Linked DNA regions of Homo sapiens. The protein of the gene in region 1 purifies or fractionates together with the protein of each later gene. This does not show direct contact. Each region holds a gene or a part of one and is shown in the gene's direction. Other genes may lie near its edges.

Evidence for each region.
Region 2: the proteins of RGMB (region 1) and BMPR1B purify together in Homo sapiens (affinity purification with western blotting, with the first as the bait; one study listed by BioGRID). This does not show direct contact.

What each region holds. Positions count from the first base shown.
Region 1 is NC_000005.10:98,780,144-98,783,968, forward strand, and holds part of RGMB (repulsive guidance molecule B isoform 1 precursor), read left to right. Parts: intron 1-3,825. UniProt on the Homo sapiens protein: Member of the repulsive guidance molecule (RGM) family that contributes to the patterning of the developing nervous system. Acts as a bone morphogenetic protein (BMP) coreceptor that potentiates BMP signaling. Promotes neuronal adhesion.
Region 2 is NC_000004.12:95,149,189-95,153,013, forward strand, and holds part of BMPR1B (bone morphogenetic protein receptor type-1B isoform b precursor), read left to right. Parts: intron 1-3,454; coding exon 3,455-3,585; intron 3,586-3,825. UniProt on the Homo sapiens protein: On ligand binding, forms a receptor complex consisting of two type II and two type I transmembrane serine/threonine kinases.

The sequences.
Region 1 (3,825 bases):
TCTTCAGATAACTTTTGAAATGTGCTATAAAGGGCCTAGTTTAAAAGGAACTTCTTTTGAAAAGCAATTAACAGTTGATAAAGGGTTAAATAAAAATTATCTAGTAAGGAATTTCTTATTGGAATGTAAACGTGGTTCTAATTTTAAATAGACAGTGATATAAAGAATAAAAAGTAAACAGTGAAATTGAGTTCTCCAGGGAAAAGGCAGACCTGTTTAGTAAAAAAAGGATGCTTTTTTCAGTGATGTCTTTTTTTGAGTGCATATGTGTGTGACTCTTGAAGAAATCCATGTTCAGATTTATCAGATGATTGAAGTGGGTGTTCTGAATAAAGAAAGCTGTGAGGCCTGAGGCAGTGACGTATCAGGAAACATATTTTATTGGAGATTTGGAAGCTATAGTAAAACATAATGGCAATAAGCCAACTTCCCAGTGGTAAACCCACAGTGGTGGTTTAGTTACTAACCTCTTGATGACCGAGGAGGTTAATAATTGGATATTGCAGAGCAGCAATATGTAACCTGTGTGTAATCTCAGGGCCTCAGGTTAACAGTTTCAGTCAGAAGCTAAGAGAAACACTGACAAAATTTAGCTTACCATGACTAGCTGCCAGTTTATGTGGTCTGTGTTCGTTTGTTTTAAAGAAACTAATACTGTACAGAGATCTTTGACACCAACTTCAAGGCACCAGTGTTTAGTGCAAGCAGGTAGAGAGGACCTATGAACTAGGTTTCTAATTGGCAGTCAGTGCTAATTCAGCCATTAGTAAGTAAAGTCACTTTTCCACTAAAATAGTGTCCCGACTAACCACCTCCTTCCGTGTCTTTTCCAACCACAAAACCACACACATAGACCATCTCATCTTACTTTATTTCTTGCATTTATTGTATCCAAAAAAATTGGTTTAGTTTTTTAATGTAATTGACAAGACTCAAGCTTTTGAAATACTTACGACTGTTCTCTTGATTCCAGGACACCCTCCCCTGTGTCTAAACATGTGTGGTATACTTTTTAAATAAATTAAAGCTTATTTTACTTGGCATTTTGTGGAGGGAATTTTACAACACCTCGGGAGATATCTGCAGACACCCTGGGGTGTCACAAATTTAAGACTAGAAGTCATTGCCCTAATCAAAGACGACTGTTACACTGGTCTAGACATCTTAGGGGAACTCCAAAATGTTTATACTTCAACTCTCAGTAAAAGCTCAAGCTTGTCTTTTGCCTTACCAAATTCCATATCTCAAAATAAACTTTTCTCCCTCTGGTTTTTGTATGTACTCAAATCATTTTTTTATAAATATCTCAGAATATGTATTTGCTATAAATTATATATAAAGTTATAGAATTATGAAGTTATAAGAGAAACGATGGCCCCAAATCCATCATTACTGCAGAGTCATATGGCACATGAAAGCTGGGAATAGTCTTTGGGTAACTGAAAGAAGGCAGTCCATTGAGAATGGAAAAAGTCATCAATTGTGCAAATAATTGAGGACTTGGCAGAGTGACCTTCGAACAAAACTATAGAGATTAATCAGAGCTTGTAAATGGGGAAATACTCATTCTCTTCACAAGAAGCAGTATTCAAATTTTATTCTTCATGCCTTCCATCCGGTCATGTCACTTCTGTTATTCAGTCTTTCAGAATTCTATTGTTACTGATTATGGTGAAAATATGTGGGGGATAACCTTATGAATATTGCTATATATATGGAACAGTTTACACTGAAGTATTTAAGATCATTTTATTTCAGTTGAATTCTGTTGTAATTTTTAGCAAATAAATAAAAAGGACAATCTTGTTTTCTCCCTCAGTTTGGAATAAGGATCAAAGGTTTTACCCATTCAAAAAAAGTTGGAGAAAGTGGTCCTCTGACATAAATTCAAGTAGATGATGAGAATGCTTGGTCTTTAATTGCACTATTGGAAGGTATTTTCCCACATCTGGTGACCATGCTGTTCAGCAGCAAACTATTCTGTAGCCTCACTTCACAACCTCTAGGAGTTGTTGGGTTTGGTTCCCCATCCCCCTTCTCTTTGTAACTCTCTCCAAAGCCCCATAAGCATCTGGAAGGTTGCTCTTGAAGACCTGTCTCAATACTAGTATGACGTGTGCTGGTGAAACCAAAGAAAGGCCTAAATCTTACAATACGTTCCTTTTACCCAGCCAGGACCAAAATAAAACCTTTAAAAACCTTCAGCACAAAAAAGTGGTGGTGATAAAAATAAAAACAATAAGAGGCATAAAAGTGCTTATAAAATAAGTTCTAAACAAGATCTGAAATTTTCCCTTAATGTCTACCACCATACTTTCTTTAAAAAATCTTTTGAAAAATTTTTTCATGGAAATCCCAGCTTTACTGAGAATTTAAGCAAGTGCATAGACCAGTTGTTGGGTAACCTAGTACTGTGCCTTGTAGATACCAGATCATCCTTGTGTGGTCAAGTGTTTTTAATAACCCACGTGCTCAGTGCCACTAGATTGAAAGACTGATGTCATTGGCTAGCTGGCCAGCTGTGATACTGAAATTTTCGGAAACATCCATTCATTTCGCTCCCTTTAACACTGCACTGAAGCACTAGACCCCAGGGTATTTTGCTCAATGAGGCTACTAAGACAGCTTCTCAGTCCTGGGAACCTGGCCTCTTGAGCAAGCCGTCTTCAAGCCCAACTTTGTGAGCTCTGCCTGTTCCTAGGTACCCCCCTTTTCCTTATCACAAAAAGACAAAGTGGGGGAAAAATCTAAACACCATAGAATGAAATGAAGTCACCCGGGGCCATATATTAGCTAAGCCTTTTCTTTTTCTCTACATGGCAAGCAGTGAGTTCAAGGCAGACATGCCTGCGGTGCTTAATGATGTTGCCTCATCTCCCCTGGTCTACTGTTTTCTTCCCCACCATGGCCCTCTCCTCCCCTTCCTTGGGAAAGGTAGGGTTTGTTTTCCTGTTGGTCATGGTGTGCACAGGTATGCTTTCTCAAGGCCTCTGTGTTTTTAGTTTTGCCCTGTGCCTGCCTCCCTCTCTTTGGAGGAACCTGTGCCAGTTGGCTACCTTGCCAGGTAGATGTGTTTCTGAAGGGGAAGCCAGGGCTGGTTTTTCATCTCTCCACCCCGGGGGCTGCAGGGGTGTCTGGCACACACACATACCTCGGCTGACATCCACATCAGCTCTGGGCCATCTTCCCCACCTTTGGCTGTGAGAGGCGGCTACAGGCATGTAGGCACTCAGAATGAGATGAGAGGGACAGGCTCTGAACTGGCAGAGTTAGCTACACTGAGAAGAAAGGCAGGTTTTGTTTTGCAGGAGGAAGTAGCCCACCCTTCACAGGCTCCAGAGAGGGCACATGTCAGTAGTTGTCCTGTGCCTCACACACTCAAGATAAACCAGATGATCTGTTTTGAGGATGCTTGACTTCTTCCATGTTATTTTTGCCAACCTCTCAGTCTCAACTCTTGTTCATTCATTCTGTGGATCTTTATATCTCTGTTTAAGTGGGTTCAATAAGAATCTGTATATGCCATGATCACAGAAGGTGATTGGGGAATAAATTTTTTTATGAAAGATTCTGCACTTTGCAAATGTATTCCCAATAGCATATATTAAAATTGCCAGTCTCCAGGGAATTCAAAAGTATTCCTTTTTCAAAAACAATTCTGAAATTCATTTATTATTAAGTTGCATACCTAAACAAACAATGGAAATGTTTTTAGTAATTATTTTTGTACAAGTAGTTTGAATGCCTTCATTTTATTTTTCCTTTTGTTTTAATGTGGTTGTATCCTTTTTCACCACTCTTGCTTTCTTATTCTATCCTTCCACC
Region 2 (3,825 bases), on another chromosome or scaffold:
TGTCTTATTTCTGTCTTGGGTTCTTCCTCCAGCAGTTGCTCGATGAAATCAAACCCCCTTTTCTGTCCCTGCCAGTTTATTCTCACCTAGCTGCTGGGCCCCATCCCCAACTCCATTCCCTGGGATTTCCTCTGCAGAGATGACAGTAGGCCATAAATGTGGGGTCGGACACCCATTTCTTACCTGCTGTATTTTTTATAAAACTTCCCCATAAAGCAATTTGAAAACATCAGTTTTTTATCAAAAGGAAATTAAAGTATCAGAGTATTATTTTTTTATATTGTTTTTTCTACACATATGAGGATTCCCTAGTAAAAACAATTATAATGAACAAGAAGACATATTTAAATATTCAGAAGTATTATTACTTGTACTATTTTGATTGCTCTACAGTCTGTCTTCGAGTAAATTCTGACACCTTTTAGGCAAGGAGCTGAATCTTTGGCTTTTCTGTATCAACTCTTCTGTATGTTATTCCATGGTTGTGCTCATTAAAAAACCTTGATGCTGCTGCTGTTCCTCATAATGGCCAATTTAAGTCTATCTTCATGAAAACATGAGCTTGCTGAAGATTCTGAAAGTGCAGCATGCACTTAACTAGTACTGAGATGTGTTCTTGTTCCTGCTATTTATCTGTGATGCCTTGGACAGGTTATAAACTTTTCTTTGTTTCAGAGTCCTCTTAAAGATGAATTGAATTATTGTATCTGCTTCTGTGGTTGTATGGTTTCAATGTAAAGATAATGAGAACTGCCTGGCACATAAATAGCACTCAATACATGTTAGCTATTATTACTATTAATACTTTTCATTTTGGTTGGTAGAGCCATAACATCTTTAGGTTCATATTTAAATACAAAGAAGAAACAGTTAATCAACCTGCATTCACACTTCAATAGAAAGATCATTATCAGTGGCACAGTGCCTTCTAATAATCACTTTGGGAATTCTGAACCTGTTTTAAGAAATTTGAAATAGAACACATACTCTCTGAAGTGAGGGAACTATTTTGTGCAAAAGGAAAGTTAATGCAGGAAATTTTCTCTAACCAGATATTGAATAAATTTCTCATTCTAAGTGTAAAGAAGAAGTAACCAAAAAATTTAACAAATTGTCTATGCCTTGATTTCACGCATTATAAAGAGTAGATAAGCCTCACGTTTGCATTCCCAGCATTTTGGGAGTCCAAGCGGGGAGGATCAGTTGAAGCCAGGAGTTGAGGACTAGTCTGGGCAATAGATTGGGACCCAGTCTGTATTTAAAAAGAAAAAAAAAAAAAAAACAAGTAGACGAGCCTTTTAAAAAATAATATGCTTATACTTAATTAAGATAGCTTTATGGAAGTTGAAGGTGTAGAGAACAAGGTTATTTTTCTAATTATGTTTTCTTGAACATCTAAAACAAACAGGGCTACAGGAAGCCTATATTTGAAAGCCTGTGGGCCAAATACAGGAGAAATTATTCTCAGCTTAAAAACAAAGTAGCTTTATATAAACAGCAGGGTATTAATTGCTGTGCTAGGGTATTAATTTGCTTTGCTAGGGCTGTCTTTGGATGTGGAGATTTGCTATAATGTTGCCTTATTGTTAGAGGTGTTGGAGTCCCTGCTCTGTCCCATACCAACTGAATGGACTTGGGCAAGTTACTTAACCCCTGAGAGCCAAGTTTCCTCATCTGAGTAGTGTGGAGAATAATGTCATCTCAGAAACGCATTTGTGAGAATTTAATAAGATAATTTATATAGCATACCTGTTTCCACAACTGGGATAGAGGAAGCTCTCAATAAGCGATTTTATTTTTCCAGAGAGGCAAAGCACACAAAATTCTATTTTCTAACACTTTATGAAGATATTAGAAGTTTTTTGGGCTTATCTTTCTAGTCCAGGCCCTTCTGGGTGAAAGAGACACATCCAGATGTAGGCCTTTCCATCTTTTAAAGGAGAAGAAAGACAGAAAGGTTTGAGGTTTCAAACAGAGTTAAATGGCAGCTAACAGGAAATTTTGAAAACTTGATTACATGACATGGAGAAAAGAATAAGGCCTATTATTCAACAGTTAGATTTGAGTAATTCATAATTTTAAGTGGTGAGCTCTGCCTTCGTCTGTTGTAGTAGATACACCTACCCCACCCCATCCATCAGTCCATCCACCAGCGGAAAATAGGAGATGGGTTAAAGAGATGTGGGCTTTGCCTTCAGGCTGTTTCCAGGGCCATGGTCCTGAGAATGAGAAAGGGAGAAAGAACTGAAATGAAGCAGAGCACATCCTGCGTGTTAGGCCCTGTGCTTTTCTTATCTCATATGGAGGTAAAACACAGTGAAAGGAAATATTAACATAGATAATACATATAATTAGCTCTGTGGTCACAGCAGGGCACAGGACAAATGGTGAGTTGGAATGGTCTGAAAAAACTTCTGAACCTTCTGGTCCTTGATGATTTTATAACAGATTTGAGTTTACAAGAAAGAACATAACACAGACCCCAGATTTTGGCAGAGTAAGCCCCCAGTGAATTTAACGATGTGATATATAATCTGCCAACTTGACGGCATCATCTTTTTCAGATGAAAAGCAATGATATTTCTATAAAAGATGATTTAGGATAGGGAGGAGGGGTGCTCCCAAAAGATTGTTCAGAGCAGCAGCCTCTAATGTAATTATTATAAGGAGTTAATCTTAAGAAGGTGAAAAAGAAGATACTAGAAGCCTGCATTTTTAAAGGAGAAGAGGAAGAAGGTAGAAATTAAATACTAGGAACAATAAAATGAAAGTTTAGTGTGCATTTTTATGAAGATGCTATAGATTTATATTTCTTTTCTTTTAACAATACATATTTTTTCTAATAGTAATGTATTCCTTACTGAAAATTTGGATAAATATAGGAAAAAAATCAGATAATCCTTGAACCTAAAAAATTCATGGTTAATATTTTTGGGTGTCTGTAATTTTCTAAATTTTTAATGTGCAAAACCACATTCCTACAATTAAGCAGAAAAAATGTAAATCTGACATTTTGTTCAAGTAGGATACACTTCTGAATTTATTATGATATTCATAGTTTCATACTATAGTAATAGAAACAGTCACATGTAGTATGAGTTCAGGATATGTCTTGCAGATTTGCATTGAGATTTAATATAGATTTGTCTTTTAATTTGTTCTTCATAAAAATGGAAATAAATTTAAGATGCTTGTTTTACTTAGCTTTTGGAAATTAGGAAAGAAAGGCTTGAAGACCTATGACAATATTTTTCATTGGGCTTTGTATTCATTTTTTCTAAATTAGATTAAGTACCATTTGGGTAAATATTTTTCAAGATTTATTTTGCTATTTTTCTGCCTGAACTTGTCTGTAATACTGATAGCACTTTTCCTTTGAGAACTGTGTTAGACTTTTATTTCTACTTCACAGAAAATAATAATAATAATAATAATAGTAACAACATATTTTTAGGTATAGTGGAAGAATACCAGCTTCCTTATCATGACCTAGTGCCCAGTGACCCCTCTTATGAGGACATGAGGGAGATTGTGTGCATCAAGAAGTTACGCCCCTCATTCCCAAACCGGTGGAGCAGTGATGAGGTAAGGCTTGAGGTAACCATGTGGCTGTGACAGACTTCTAAATAGACTTTTCTTTTTTAGCTAAAATTCCACATATTGATTGTAGGAATTCTTCTTTTTTTGATGGTGATGGTGATGGCGCCTCATTGCAGTAATTTATATGAAGATAAGTGTAGTATGTTAAATTACTTGTTCTACTTTTCCAATTTTATTTTGCCACTTCCAGAATATATTGAGTGAGTTGGTCAGTGTTTAGCCTGC